Linked DNA regions of Homo sapiens: region 2 is linked to region 1. The links come from fine-mapping of genetic effects on gene expression. Tissue or cell type: whole blood. Region 1 holds a variant in brackets; the other region holds the start of a gene. All regions are shown on one strand. Distances are from middle to middle.

What was found. PIP is the estimated chance that this variant, and not a neighbour inherited with it, causes the effect.
Region 2: it holds the start of OR2W3, and the variant in region 1 is fine-mapped to the expression of OR2W3 in whole blood (INTERVAL, PIP above 0.99).

What each region holds. Positions count from the first base shown.
Region 1 is chr1:247,868,624-247,876,878 of GRCh38, forward strand. It overlaps TRIM58 (tripartite motif containing 58), which reads left to right. Exons shown (of 6, transcript NM_015431.4): 6 at 7,277-8,255. The coding sequence ends at 7,866. Among named protein-coding and RNA genes, the nearest start is that of TRIM58, 16 kb to the left of the region's middle. The variant A/T (reference allele first, on the strand shown) is at 3,541.
Region 2 is chr1:247,890,703-247,898,957 of GRCh38, forward strand. OR2W3 (olfactory receptor family 2 subfamily W member 3) reads left to right here and starts at 4,885. Exons shown (of 1, transcript NM_001001957.2): 1 at 4,885-5,829. The coding sequence starts at 4,885. The coding sequence ends at 5,829.

The DNA of each region.
Region 1 (8,255 bases):
CAGGTTGTGGTCTGTGATTCTGACCAACTGACTGTAAACTGGGGTTCCCACAACCCTCTTCTTGAGTTCACTTAATTTCCTGAAACAGCTGACAAAACTTAGGGACACATATTTACTCATTTATTATAAGGGCGTTACAGAGGCTAGAGATGAACAGATGGAAGAGATTCTTAGGGCGAGGTTTGTGAGAAGGGGTACGGAGCTTCCACGCCCTTTCTAGGCCTGCTACCTTTGGAACCTCCGTGTGTTCAGTGATCTGGAAGTCCTCAGGACTCAGTTCTTTTTTTTGTGTGTGTGATGAAGTCTTACTCTGTCGCCCAGGCTGGAGTGCAGTGGCGCCATCTCAGCTCACTGCAACCTCCACCTCCCATGTTCGAGCGATTCTCCTGCCTCAGCCTCCCGAGTAGCTGGGATTACAGGCACATGCCACCATGCCTGGCTAATTTTTATATTTTTAGTAGAGACGGGGTCTCACCATGTTAGCCAGGCTGGTCTCGAACTCCTGACCTCAAATGATCTGCCTGCCTCGGCCTCCTAAAGTGCTGAGATGACAGGCGTGAGCCACTGTGCCTGGCCAATGAACTCAGTTATTTTGGGTTTTTATGGAAGCACTATGTAGACGTGATTGATTAGATCATAGGCCATTGGTTTACCAACCCACCCTTAAGCCCCTCTCCCTCTTCAGAGGTGGGGGGGGGTGAGGCGTGAAGGACTGAAAGTTTCAAGCCTCTAATCACATGGTTGGTTCCCCTGGCAACCACACCCAGTGGGAGGCTTTCTGGGTAATCACCAACCACAATTCATCTTATTAGCTTACAAAAGACACTCTTGTATTTCTGGAAATTTCAAGGATTTTAAGAACTGTATGTCAGTAAACAGGATATAGACCAAATACACACTTCACAGTATCATAGGCATGGTGAATGTAGACCAAATATATACTTCCCAGTGTCATAGGTATGGTGCCTCCTGCACTGTAGACCAAATACGTACTTCACAGTATCATAGGCATGGTGACTCATGCACTCCTCTTAAAGGTACCCATGCTGAATTAGAGCATCTGGCCTTCCTGAGATTTCATGGCTAAGTCAAACTATCAAGGAGACAGTGTAGGGGGCAAGGGAAAACTTTCCCCTTTCCCTATGAATGTTTGCTGAAAATCAACTGACCAAAGACAAATAGGAACAAAGGCATAGAAAAAGTCTAACATTCATAGCACAGTGGAATCGCAGGAGAGTAATGACCCAATAACGCAGTGGGATACAGATGCTTATATACCTTTCTTTATTGGAGGAAAGGGAGATGGGGAGGTGTGGATGATTTTAGGGAGATAGTAAATGATTTTTTGGAGGATTCATTGGGCTTGGAGTGCATACAGTGGCTTGGGACAAAGTGTTGAAAAGTAGACAGTGGTTTGTGACTAAAGTCTGTCCAGGTGTATTGATAGACTTGTCTGTCTTCCTGCAATATGAGCTAAATTAATTAAAATGCAGGGACTTCAGGCAGATAAATGAGTGTTAGAATAAAGCTTCTTACAGTGTGTGATGGTCTCCAAGGGCCTTTAATTTAAAATAATGGGCATACCAGGGTGCCATATTTTAGGGTAAAATTCCCTGGTCTCCTTCCGTGGGAGAGTGCACCATGCCCAGAAAAATTAGGATTGGTATATTCATGAGCAGTATCAGAGTCACGGCCACCCATAGAGCCTGCACCACCATGCCCAGAAGAACGAGGATTAGTATATTCATGAGCAGTATCAGAGTCACGGCCACCCATAGAGCCTGCACCACCACGCCCAGAAGAACGAGGATTAGTATATTCATGAGCAGTATCAGAGTCACGGCCACCCATAGAGCCTGCACCACCACACCCAGAAGAACGAGGATTAGTATATTCATGAGCAGTATCAGAGTCACGGCCACCCATAGAGCCTGCACCACCACGCCCAGAAGAACGAGGATTAGTATATTCATGAGCAGTATCAGAGTCACGGCCACCCATAGAGCCTGCACCACCACGCCCAGAAGAACGAGGATTAGTATATTCATGAGCAGTATCAGAGTCACGGCCACCCGTAGAGCCTGCACCACCACGCCCAGAAGAACGAGGATTAGTATATTCATGAGCAGTATCAGAGTCACGGCCACCCGTAGAGCCTGCACCACCACGCCCAGAAGAACGAGGATTAGTATATTCATGAGCAGTATCAGAGTCATGGCCACCCATAGAGCCTGCACCACCACGCCCAGAAGAACGAGGATTAGTATATTCATGAGCCGTATCAGAGTCACGGCCACCCATAGAGCCTGCACCACCACGCCCAGAAGAACGAGGATTAGTATATTCATGAGCCGTATCAGAGTCACGGCCACCCATAGAGCCTGCACCACCACGCCCAGAAGAACGAGGATTAGTATATTCATGAGCAGTATCAGAGTCACGGCCACCCATAGAGTCTACATTTGGTTAGACTATGGGCTTAAAACTGTAGGTCATCTCTTATTAGCTGATATGAGTAACGTTACTTCCAGTAAATTTACATTTCCTTGCTTATAAAATGCTAAAAATAAATTGCTTGGAGGACAAAATGAAACATTTGAAAGCACCCCACCTCCTAAAAGTAATCAATATGAAAGCACTGCAAAGTTATCAATTAGCAAGAAGTTTGGTTTAATTTATTGGCTGAGAATTTGATGAGTTGCTTGAATTAGTGAGTCAATAAAGCCAAAAATATTGTCAGTTATTTTCATGTAGGAATAAGCAGTGTCACAAAAAATTAGTGTGTTTAGTCTGATTGTATTATTCTTTAAAACAGTATAGATTCAGTATTGTTTACAATTTCATTTTAAAATCTAATTTATCCCAAGTAATGAAAACTATGTCTAAATAGTGACTTCACTACTTAGAGGGAAAGAGTGTAAAGTCCCTTAATGAGAAAACCCATCTCTGCAGCATAGTACCCACGTTCTCCTGGGTAGATGAATGTATGCTAAATGCCCAACTTGATTAAAATCGTCATGGCACCCTCAGACTCAGCAACCTCATATCCATATTTGTTTTTATGGAATGAAATCATTCAAAATGTGTGATTAATTTTATCTCACCCATTCTTTTAAACATTGGAATATATCATTCAACAACAACAACAAAATACTCTACAATCCGTAGCTTTGTGTTGCAGATATGTACTTCACCAAAATACACAGGCTGTAAGTGGCTGACACAGAATATTGAAGAAAATCAAAAAGAGTATGCAAAGGGTAATGAGAAGTTCTAGTTTTGAATAAGGTGACCAGGAAAGACCCCGCCCTGCAGGGGATAACCCAGCAAATATATGATCTGGAAGAAAGCATTCAGGCAGCAGAAATGAGCGCCAAGGCCTGACGTGGAGGATGGCAGGTGTGTTCCAGGAGCTGTGAGGATGTCAGTGTGAGGACTCTGTGGCAGAGTAAATGACAGGAGGGTCGGAGAGACCAAGAAAGGGCTAGATAGGCAGGCCATGCTGAGCATGATACTTTATCCCTGAGCGAAATAGGACAT[A/T]GTTGAAAGTTGTACCTAGAAAAATAGTTTGATTGGACTAATGTTTTATGAGGATCACTCTATATGCTTTCTTGTAAGTAAATTACAGAGAGGAGAAGATTGACATGGGAAAAGCAGTTAAGGGTCTTTGCAGTAATTTGATGAGAGATGATTATGTGTTGGAATAGATGTTATTACGGAAGGTGCCGCAAGATGGACAGATTTTTGTTATATACTGAAGGCAGAGCTGTTAAGATTTGCTGTTGGATTATATATGATGTGCTATAAACAGGAAGAGCCATGAATGATTCCAAGGTTTTGGATCTTGCGAACTGGCAAAATGTGATTGCCACTTATATTGATGAGGAAAGCGACAGTTGAAGCAGAAGAAGGGCACAGGGTTTTGGATATGTGGATGTTGCGATGAGTGCTAAATATTCAAATGTTGCTATCAAGTGGGCAGATGAATGTACAATAGGGAGTTTCAGGGTAAAGTTCAAAGCTAAGCACATGCATTGGGAATCAGTCAGCATATGAATGGAATTTTATCAAAGCAATGAACCAGCCAGCACCCGGGTAGATAGGGAGTGAGGTGAGAGAGAGAGAAGAAGTCCAAGTCTTGGGACTATAGGTTTCTCCAGTGGTGGTGGTGGAGGAGAAGAGAACAGCAAAGAGGATCAAGGAGTAGTGAGCAGTGAGGGAAGGGAAACATGGATGAGTGTTACCTTTGGAAAAGGGAGATTTTCCAGCACAAGTAGATTCTCAGTGTTGAGAGATACAGAAAAATCATTGAAGATGAACTCTGGGCCGGGCGCGGTGGCTCACGCCTGTAAATCCCTGCACTTTGGGAGGCCGAGGCGGGCAGATCACCTGAGGTCAGGAGTTCGAGACCAGCCTGATCAACCTGAGGAAACCTTGTCTCTACTAAAAATACAAAATTAGCCAGGCGTGGTGGTGCATGCCTGTAATCCCAGCTACTCGGGAGGCTGAGGCAGGAGAATCACTTGAACCCGGGAGATGGGGGTTGCAGTAAGCCAAGATCATGCCATTGAACTCCAGCCTGGGCAACAAGAGCAAAACTCCATCTTAAAAAAAAGACAAACTGACAAGTAACCATTCATCAACACGGAGGTCCCTGGGAAGATGGACATGCGCAGTTTGGTTGGGGTATGGTCACATCATGATGAAGAATTGAGTTTAGGAGAGAAGGGGTAGGGAGAGGAATGGGATACAGACCATATCAAAAGCCATTTCACAGATCTCTTTTGTTAGAAATGAAGCAGACCACTGTGCCGGAAGAGGAATGGCTTGGGAATACATGACCTGTTAGATTGTGTTAAATGCACAATCCATGGAGACCTACCTTTCAATCTCTGTTATTTACCTCTAGAGTTTGGGAAGACCACATAAACTCTTTGACTCTGAATCTACTCTTGTGTAATGTAGGGATGACAATGGTGACCCTCAGGGTGGTTACATAATAAAAATAATGCAATGCGCAGTTACGTGACCACTCAGGTTGGGTATCAATAAAAATTCACTAGACCGGGCGTGGCAGCTCACGCCTGTAATCCCAACATTTTGGGAGGCTGAGGCGGATGGATTGCTTGAACCCAGGAGTTCGAGACCAGCCTGGGCAACATGGCAAAACCCCTTCTCTACAAAAAAATACAGAAAACTAGCTGGGCATGGTGGTGTGTGCCTTCCCAGCTACTCAGAGGGCTGAGGTCAGGGGATGGCTTGAGTCTGAGAGGTGGAGGCTGCAGTGAGCTGTGATTGCACCACTGCACTCCAGACTGGGCAACAGAGCGAGACTCCGTTTCAAAAAAAAAAGTAGTTCACTGTAAGTGTTTAAAGGCAAATAAGTATAGTGGTAGTGGTAGTAGCAGTAGCAGTAGCAGTAGCAGTAGAAACAGTATTTGTTCTGATATTAAAAATCAAACTATATTAACATGTTAGTCTGATTTTGCATTGCTATAAAGAAATACCTGAGGCTGGGTAATTTATTAATATAAGGAAATATGCTTTATTTTGGCTCATGGTTCTGTAGGCTGTACAGGAGTCATGGTGCTGGCACCTGTTTCTGGTGAGGCCTCAGGACACCTACAGTCATGGTGGAAAGCAAAGGAGGAGCCAGCGTATCACATGGCAAGAGGGAAGCAGTGAAGTGGGGAGGCCCCAGGTTCCTCTTAAACGACCAGCTCTTGCATGAACGGATAAAGAACTCACTTATCACCAGTGGGATGGCACTAAGTCATTCATGGGGGATCTGCACCCATGATCCAGCACCCCCCACTAGGCCCCACCTTCAACATTGGGAATCACATTTCAACATGAGACCGGGAGGCGATACACATCCAAACCATATTATTTATTAACTTACTACTTATAAGCAATGCTAATAAGGAAATGCACTGAATATTTTACATCCCCCCTTCACTGAGGTTTCATATCTAGATGTATTTATTTATTATGTATATGGGTCAAATGTCTCATCAATCTCACTGGGACTTCAGAGTATCAGTATTTTTTATTGTTATATAACGCATAACTACAAGCTTATGTGCTTAAAGCCATACCATTTAGTAGCTCATGGTTCTGAAGACCAGACATCCAAGTGGGATCAGCTGGCTCCTCTGCTTAGGTTTTCTCAAGGCCCAAATATGGGTGTTGGCCAGGCCAGGCCAGGCTTCTGTGTAGGTCGGGGGAAGAACCTTACCTCCAACCTTATTCAGGTTGTTGGCATAATACAATTCTGTGCAAATGCGGTACTGAGATTCCTGTTTTCTTGCTGGCTGTTGGTTGGGGGCTATTCTCAGCTCTGGAGATCACTCTCAGCTCTAGAGGTCACTCGTTTGTCTCTTCATGTGACCTTTCCATTTTCAAAGCCAGCAAAGAGATATCAAATCCACATCTTATTGACCTTTCCTGCTGCCACCAACCCAATAGCCAGAGAAAACTTTCTGATTTTACAGGACTTGTGGGATTTGATTAGACGCACCTTGATAATCTCTCTCTTGTCATATAGTGTAACATACTCATGAGGCTAACACCAGGGTGTGAAGGTCATGGGGTCCATCTTAGAATTCCGCCTACCACAGTAATATAACTTTGGAAGTAGTGGATTTAATATTAATAAAATTCTATAGATTTTTAAGAAAAAAATTCCTAAGGGGTTTATAAATTTTATGTTAAATGCAGAAGATCCTCCTAAGTGCACTCAAATGCTTTGGATGTAAGCCAGACATGGTGGTGTGCACCTGTAGTCCCAGCTGCTGGGGAGGCAGACACGGGAGGATTGCTTGAGTCCAGGAGTTTGAGGCTGTAGTGTACCACGGCTATGCCCATGAATAGCTCTGCACTCCAGCCTGGGCAACATAGCAAGACCCCGTCTCTCTGTCTCTCTCTCTCTCTCTCACGCACACACACACACACAAATGCTTTAGATGTAAATGAAAGGAAACTAAATGATAATTCACTTGGTTTGTCGTCATCAATAGTTGTTTTTTTTTGGGAAAGTTAAAGAGTTCTGGGTTACGCAGAGGTAACAGTGGAATATACCAGAAAGTTATAAAGAATAAGAATAATAAAGTAATAAAGAAGATTTCACCTGTAAGGTGAAATACTGATTTGTTTTCTCTAGGAGTTAATAGAGAGAGAAAAGTGAGGAACTGTGGGACTATTCTTTTCAGTGGTTTCCTAAGTTTCTACCAGTCCTTTCTTTCCTTTCACCTGGTCCACCACATTCTTTCCGCAGTGGATGTAAAGCTGGATCCCGCCACGGCGCACCCGAGTCTGCTCTTGACCGCCGACCTGCGCAGTGTGCAGGATGGAGAACCATGGAGGGATGTCCCCAACAACCCTGAGCGATTTGACACATGGCCCTGCATCCTGGGTTTGCAGAGCTTCTCATCAGGGAGGCATTACTGGGAGGTTCTGGTGGGAGAAGGAGCAGAGTGGGGTTTAGGGGTCTGTCAAGACACACTGCCAAGAAAGGGGGAAACCACGCCATCTCCTGAGAATGGGGTCTGGGCCCTGTGGCTGCTGAAAGGGAATGAGTACATGGTCCTTGCCTCCCCATCAGTGCCTCTTCTCCAACTGGAAAGTCCTCGCTGCATTGGGATTTTCTTGGACTATGAAGCCGGTGAAATTTCATTCTACAATGTCACAGATGGATCTTATATCTACACATTCAACCAACTCTTCTCTGGTCTTCTTCGGCCTTACTTTTTCATCTGTGATGCAACTCCTCTTATCTTGCCACCCACAACAATAGCAGGGTCAGGAAATTGGGCATCCAGGGATCATTTAGATCCTGCTTCTGATGTAAGAGATGATCATCTCTAAAATTCTGTTCCCAAGATGCAGTCCTAGCGTAGCGAACGTTCCTGGAGTGGGGTGAAGGATATCAATATACTAAGTTTTAACAGATACCCCATTTAGGTCAGCACTTGATTCGTTGTTGCTGTGAAATATGTCCATGGGACAAAAGAGGGAATATGAAATATTTGCATATGGGAAGATTATAGAGCATAATAATTTTGTAAATGGAGCAATCTCAACCTCTATTTCTAGATCACATTTTCTTGATGTCTTCCTTCAAATTAATGACCTTGGATTACATAAGGATTTCTATGCATTCATTATAATTTGTTATTCCTTTCAATATCCTTGTATTTCAAATCTTCCATATAAGAATTAGACATGGCAATTCTTAAATTGATTCAGAATGGTCT
Region 2 (8,255 bases), 22 kb after region 1:
GCTGCTGGATTCAGTTTGCCAGTATTTTATTGAGGATTTTTGCATCAATGTTCATCAAGGATATTGGTCTAAAATTCTCTTTTTTGGTTGTGTCTCTGCCTGGCTTTGGTATCAGAATGATGCTGGCCTCATACAATGAGTTAGGGAGGATTCCCTCTTTTTCTATTGATTGGATTAGTTTCAGAAGGAATGGTACCAGTTCCTCCTTGTACCTCTGGTAGAATTCAGCTGTGAATCCATCTGGTCCTGGACTCTTTTTGGTTGGTAAACTATTGATTATTGCCACAATTTCAGCTCCTGTTATTGGTCTATTCAGAGATTCAACTTCTTCCTGGTTTAGTCTTGGGAGAGTGTATGTGTCGAGGAATTTATCCATTTCTTCTAGATTTTCTAGTTTATTTGCGTAGAGGTGTTTGTAGTATTCTCTGATGGTAGTTTGTATTTCTGTGGGATCGGTGGTGATATCCCATTTATCATTTTTTATTGTGTCTATTTGATTCTTCTCTCTTTTTTTCTTTATTAGTCTTGCTAGCGGTCTATCAATTTTGTTGATCCTTTCAAAAAACCAGCTCCTGGATTCATTGATTTTTTGAAGGGTTTTTTGTGTCTGTATTTCCTTCAGTTCTGCTCTGATTTTAGTTATTTCTTGCCTTCTGCTAGCTTTTGAATGTGTTTGCTGTTGCTTTTCTAGTTCTTTTAATTGTGATGTTAGGGTGTCAATTTTGGATCTTTCCTGCTTTCTCTTGTGGGCATTTAGTGCTATAAATTTCCCTCTACACACTGCTTTGAATGCGTCCCAGAGATTCTGGTATGTTGTGTCATTGTTCTTGTTGGTTTCAAAGAACATCTTTATTTCTGCCTTCTTTTTGTTATGTACCCAGTAGTCATTCAGGAGCAGGTTGTTCAGTTTCCATGTAGTTGAGCGGCTTTGAGTGAGATTCTTAATCCTGAGTTCTAGTTTGATTGCACTGTGGTCTGAGAGATAGTTTGTTACAATTTCTGTTCTTTTACATTTGCTGAGGAGAGCTTTACTTCCAACTATGTGGTCAATTTTGGAATAGGTGTGGTGTGGTGCTGAAAAAAATGTATATTCTGTTGATTTGGGGTGGAGAGTTCTGTAGATGTCTATTAGGTCCGCTTGGTGCAGAGCTGTGTTCAATTCCTGGGTATCCTTGTTGACTTTCTGTCTCGTTGATCTGTCTAATGTTGACAGTAGGGTGTTAAAGTCTCCCATTATTAATGTGTGGGAGTCTAAGTCTCTTTGTAGGTCACTCAGGACTTGCTTTATGAATCTGGGTGCTCCTGTATTGGGTGCATATATATTTAGGATAGTTAGCTCCTCTTGTTGAATTGATCCTTTACCATTATGTAATGGCCTTCTTTGTCTCTTTTGATCTTTGTTGGTTTAAAGTCTGTTTTATCAGAGACTAGGATTGCAACCCCTGCCTTTTTTTGTTTTCCATTTGCTTGGTAGATCTTCCTCCATCCTTTTATTTTGAGCCTATGTGTGTCTCTGCACGTGAGATGGGTTTCCTGAATACAGCACACTGATGGGTCTTGACTTTTTATCCAACTTGCCAGTCTGTGTCTTTTAATTGGAGAATTTAGTCCATTTACATTTAAGGTTAATATTGTAATGTGTGAATTTGATCCTGTCATTATGATGTTAGCTGGTGATTTTGCTCGTTAGTTGATGCAGTTTCTTCCTAGTCTCAATGGTCTTTACATTTTGGCATGATTTTGCAGCGGCTGGTACCGGTTGTTCCTTTCCATGTTTAGCACTTCCTTCAGGAGCTCTTTTGGGGCAGGCCTGGTGGTGACAAAATCTCTCAGCGTTTGCTTGTCTGTAAAGTATTTTATTTCTCCTTCACTTATGAAGCTTAGTTTGGCTGGATATGAAATTCTGGGTTGAAAATTCTTTTCTTTAAGAATGTTGAATATTGGCCCCCACTCTCTTCTGGCTTGTAGGGTTTCTGCCAAGAGATCCGCTGTTAGTCTGATGGGCTTCCCTTTGAGGGTAACCCGACCTTTCTCTCTGGCTGCCCTTAACATTTTTTCCTTCATTTCAACTTTGGTGAATCTGACAATTATGTGTCTTGGAGTTGCTCTTCTCAAGGAGTATCTTTGTGGCGTTCTCTGTATTTCCTGAATCTGAACGTTGGCCTGCCTTGCTATATTGGGGAAGTTCTCCTGGATAATATCCTGCAGACTGTTTTCCAACTTGATTCCATTCTCCGCATCACTTTCAGGTACACCAATCAGACGTAGATTTGGTCTTTTCACATAGTCCCATATTTCTTGGAGGCTTTGCTCATTTCTTTTTATTCTTTTTTCTCTAAACTTCCCTTCTCGCTTCATTTCATTTATTTCATCTTCCATTGCTGATACCCTTTCTTCCAGTTGATCGCATCGGCACCTGAGGCTTCTGCATTCTTCATGTAGTTCTCGAGCCTTGGTTTTCAGCTCCTTCAGCTCCTTTAAGCACTTCTCTGTATTGGTTATTCTAGTTATACATTCTTCTAAATTTTTTTCAAAGTTTTCAACTTCTTTGCCTTTGGTTTGAATGTCCTCCCGTAGCTCAGAGTAATTTGATCGTCTGAAGCCTTCTTCTCTCAGCTCGTCAAAATCAATCTCCATCCAGCTTTGTTCTGTTGCTGGTGAGGAACTGCGTTCCTTTGGAGGAGGAGAGGCGCTCTGCGTTTTAGAGTTTCCAGTTTTTCTGTTCTGTTTTTTCCCCATCTTTGTGGTTTTATCTACTTTTGGTCTTTGATGATGGTGATGTACAGATGGGTTTTTGGTGTGGATGTCCTTTCTGTTTGTTAGTTTTCCTTCTAACAGACAGGACCCTCAGCTGCAGGTCTGTTGGAATACCCTGCCGTGTGAGGTGTCAGTGTGCCCCTGCTGGGGGGTGCCTCCCAGTTAGGCTGCTCGGGGGTCAGGGGTCAGGGACCCACTTGAGGAGGCAGTCTGCCCGTTCTCAGATCTCCAGCTGCATGCTGGGAGAACCACTGCTCTCTTCAAAGCTGTCAGACAGGGACATTTAAGTCTGCAGAGGTTACTGCTGTCTTTTTGTTTGTCTGTGCCCTGCCCCCAGAGGTGGAGCCTACAGAGGCAGGCAGGCCTCCTTGAGCTGTGGTGGGCTCCACCCAGTTCGAGCTTCCAGGCTGCTTTGTTTACCTAAGCAAGCCTGGGCAATGGCGGGCGCCCCTCCCCCAGCCTCGCTGCTGCCTTGCAGTTTGATCTCAGACTGCTGTGCTAGCAATCAGCGAGATTGCATGGGCGTAGGACCCTCCGAGCCAGGTGTGGGATATAGTCTCGTGGTGCGCCGTTTTTTAAGCCGGTCTGAAAAGCGCAATATTCGGGTGGGAGTGACCTGATTTTCCAGGTGCGTCCGTCACCCCTTTCTTTGACTGGGAAAGGGAACTCCCTGACCCCTTGCGCTTCCCAGGTGAGGCAATGCCTCGCCCTGCTTCGGCTTGTGCACGGTGCGCGCACCCACTGGCCTGCGCCCACTGTCTGGCACTCCCTAGTGAGATGAACCCGGTACCTCAGATGGAAATGCAGAAATCACCTGTCTTCTGCGTCGCTCACGCTGGGAGCTGTAGACCGGAGCTGTTCCTATTCGGCCATCTTCGCATGTATTTATTTTTATTTGTCTTAGTTTGGGAGTACTGTTTTGTTACCTCCACGTATGGATTTATATTAATTTGCGAGTACTGCTTTTTACCTGCACATACATGCTTATATCTATTTATATTAATTTGGGAGTACTGCTTTTTACCTGCACATACATACTTATATCTATTTATATTAATTTGGGAGTACTGCTTTTTACCTGCACATACATACTTATATCTATTTATATTAATTTGGGAGTACTGCTTTTTACCTGCACATACATGCTTATATCTATTTATATTAATTTGGGGGTACTGCTTTTTAGCTGCATGTATTGCACAGTGGCGAAGTCTTGGCTTTTAATGCATCCATCACCCAAACACCAGGATGGACCAAGTCTCCCTATATCCATCTGTAAGACTTGTGGTTTGTCTTATCAAATATGCTTTGCTTTGAATGTGATGTGGTATTAGAGTTGGAACGTGATAGAGGTTTCTGTACATATGCGTGAATTTTGCATTACAGTTGTAATATCTGTTACAAAGTTTTTTCAATCTCTTTTATCCTCTCAAGCAGTATATAGTACTTTGGAAGAAAAACCCATACACTCTATTTGTTCAATACCAGGCCCATTTAAAAGACAGAGAGAAAAAAAGAGATTTTATGTGTATTTTGCCTGTCTCTTACATTATTTATCTACTGAGGTAATTTTAAAATTAAATTAAATTAAATTCTGAGGTAATTTAAAAATTACCTCAGTAATGGTAACCCAATGAATGAGGTGTGTCTTTGAGACCAGTAATAGATAAAGTACTCTGTGTGTAAAGAGTATTTCCTAAATACTATTGATGGATTATTTTGAGGCTCCATTTTGAGTCCTTGAGGTTTTTGGCAGGAGCCTAGGGACTGGAGTCTCTAGAAAAATTCGTGGTTTGGCCACAGCAGGATTTGCCTTCACTTCACTGGATTTGGAGGCAGTGCTACTGGTGGTTTAGATTGCACACTCTCAGCTACATTGCCGGGGTTCAGAATCAGCTCTGTGTCTTCCTACATATCACAGTTTGCTCAACACACATGTGTTTCAGTTTCCTTTTCTATAAGTTGGGAGCTAATAATAATAGTGCAACTCCATATAACTGTTGGGGTTGAATGAATAAAATAAATATAAAAAGCATAGAAGAATGCTTAGCTTCTAGTAAGTTCTCCCTTAATATCAGCTGTTATTATTATTATTAGGATTGATATTTCTGTTCAGCAGCAGTAGAGATGGATGGAACCAATGGCAGCACCCAAACCCATTTCATCCTACTGGGATTCTCTGACCGACCCCATCTGGAGAGGATCCTCTTTGTGGTCATCCTGATCGCGTACCTCCTGACCCTCGTAGGCAACACCACCATCATCCTGGTGTCCCGGCTGGACCCCCACCTCCACACCCCCATGTACTTCTTCCTCGCCCACCTTTCCTTCCTGGACCTCAGTTTCACCACCAGCTCCATCCCCCAGCTGCTCTACAACCTTAATGGATGTGACAAGACCATCAGCTACATGGGCTGTGCCATCCAGCTCTTCCTGTTCCTGGGTCTGGGTGGTGTGGAGTGCCTGCTTCTGGCTGTCATGGCCTATGACCGGTGTGTGGCTATCTGCAAGCCCCTGCACTACATGGTGATCATGAACCCCAGGCTCTGCCGGGGCTTGGTGTCAGTGACCTGGGGCTGTGGGGTGGCCAACTCCTTGGCCATGTCTCCTGTGACCCTGCGCTTACCCCGCTGTGGGCACCACGAGGTGGACCACTTCCTGCGTGAGATGCCCGCCCTGATCCGGATGGCCTGCGTCAGCACTGTGGCCATCGAAGGCACCGTCTTTGTCCTGGCGGTGGGTGTTGTGCTGTCCCCCTTGGTGTTTATCCTGCTCTCTTACAGCTACATTGTGAGGGCTGTGTTACAAATTCGGTCAGCATCAGGAAGGCAGAAGGCCTTCGGCACCTGCGGCTCCCATCTCACTGTGGTCTCCCTTTTCTATGGAAACATCATCTACATGTACATGCAGCCAGGAGCCAGTTCTTCCCAGGACCAGGGCATGTTCCTCATGCTCTTCTACAACATTGTCACCCCCCTCCTCAATCCTCTCATCTACACCCTCAGAAACAGAGAGGTGAAGGGGGCACTGGGAAGGTTGCTTCTGGGGAAGAGAGAGCTAGGAAAGGAGTAAAGGCATCTCCACCTGACTTCACTTCCATCCAGGGCCACTGGCAGCATCTGGAACGGCTGAATTCCAGCTGATATTAGCCCACGACTCCCAACTTGCCTTTTTCTGGACTTTTGTGAGGCTGTTTCAGTTCTGACATTATGTGTTTTTGTTGTTGCTCTTAAAATTGAGACGGGGTCTCACTCTGTCACCTAGGGTAGAGTGCAGTGGTGCCACCATAGCTCCTTCGACTATTGGGCTTAAGCGATCCTCCCCCACCTCAGCCTTCCAAGTAACTGGGACTACAGGTGTGCATCACTGGCAGTGGGAATTGTGGCTTGTGGCTTTTCTGTCTTCTATGGAGACGGGGTCTTGCTGTGTTGACCAGGCTGGTCCCAAACTCCTGGCCTCATGTGATCCCCCTGCCATGGCCTCCTAAAAGTTCTGGGATTACAAGTGTGAGTCACTGCGACTGGCCAACATTATGTGATTTATGTGTGAACTATATAACACAAATCATCCCCAAAACCCATCATGATCTGTAAAGCAGCTGCAAAGAATGAAGTGAGACAAACAGTTGTAAAGATGAGTTTCCACCTACTTATACCAGAGTGCTAAGAGGAAATAACTCTTCTCAATCAGAGCTTTGCTTTGTTTGTTGTTGTTTGCTTTAAAGTCTAACACACCTGACATGTTTCAGTCAGAATGACCCCAAATGCATCACTGTTCTCCACGTGGTCCAAGTGCCTCTCTGTTTAGGGCCATCAAATCATGGAATGCAGCACAGTTTTATATTTTCTATATTCCCAATTCCTACCCAAACCTTTTCATGAAATCGTAGAGTTTGTTTTACCCTTTATCTGGTGTAAGATTCTGCATAAACCAAGAAGTGAACCTGTAAGTTATGATGCATGGGTTGTTTAAATCTTAAAGCATCATTCTTTCTCAGGCATGTTTTTTTCATTATTAGTAAGAAGAACCTGACATTGGTTTAGTCCCTTCTGTGTACCAGACGCTCCTAAGTCATGCAACCTCAGTATTTGTATGAGGTCAGCATGATTATCATTATTCCCATTTTATCTCCCTGGTCCTTGAGATCTGAAGGTTAAATCTTTTGCTCGAGGGGAACTGAACCAGGGTTTTTTCCAAGTTCTGTCAGACTCCCGATTCATATGGTTTCTATTGCATCATGAAATTTCAAAGAGCAAAAATCCTTAAGCATTTGGCACACAATGTCAAAGACCCTTTGGGGCTAAGGGGCATGACTGGCTACTGTTCCTTACACATTGCAGTCCTCAATGTGTCCCACTAACGTGCCCTCCAGTTATCTGAGGTCTTGTTCCAATGCAATTCCAATTCAGCTGGTGATAAGAGGGGTCTGAGTTTCTGCGACTCTGCAAACCTCCCAGGTGATGTCCCTACTTTGGGGACTCGGACTACATTTTAAGAACCCAGGAAGTATATCACCCCCTGCTCTTGTTCCGGGCATTTGGAGGGTGGACACATTCTGGAAAAAGTTGGGAGAGTGTTCATAGACCAAGGGCGAACACAAGGTGAGAGGGAGTGGTGTGAAAGGCCAGCTGAGGGGTGGTCCTCATTCCTCTGCCGTTGCTCCTGTGCTCGGCTCCCTCCTCCTCCACAAGTGTATTTCTGCGCTCTTTTGTATCCTCCTCACCTCCACACCTCACATCTAAAGTCACCAGCCCCAGGGCATTGTGTAAGTGTAAACAAACCAGAGCCCCAGAGAGGGGGATTCCTGTGCTTCCAGAGCACCCCCTCTGACTATTCAAGGATGCTGTTTGTAAGAAGTACTGATGTGGATGTGTAGTAGGAAGAGCCGCAGACAAAACTCCTCAGACACCGAGTTAGAGAAGGAAGGGGTTTATTCGACCAGGGGCATCGGCAAGACTCCTGTCTCAAGAGCCGAGCTCCCCAAGTGAGCAATTCCCGTCCCTTTTAAGGGCTCACAACTCTAAGGGGGTGCGCGTGAGAGGGTCGTGATCGATTGAGCAAGTAGGGGGTACGTGACTGGGGGCTGGTAATTAGATCGGAACAAAACAGGACAGGGATTTTCACAGTGCTTTTCTATACAATGTCTGTAATCTATAGATAACATAACCGATTATGTCAGGGGTCAATCTTTAACTACCAGGCCCAGGGTGTGGTGCTGGGCTGTCTGCTTGTGGATTTGATATTTGCCTTTTAGTTTTTACTTTTTTTTTCTTTGGAGGCAGAAATTGGGCATAAGACAATATGAGGGGTGGTCTACTCCCTTATTCCCCCCTTTGAGAGTCTCACTCAATAGTGGGAGTTCTCACTTTCATTTTTACTACCCATGTCTTCTGGCAAGACAGATCAATAGTGATTCATATAGTACACTTGTGCTGAAGCTTTTGGTGAACTAAGGTAGTGATGAAGCTTTTTATCATTTGAAGAAGTACAGGTAGCAA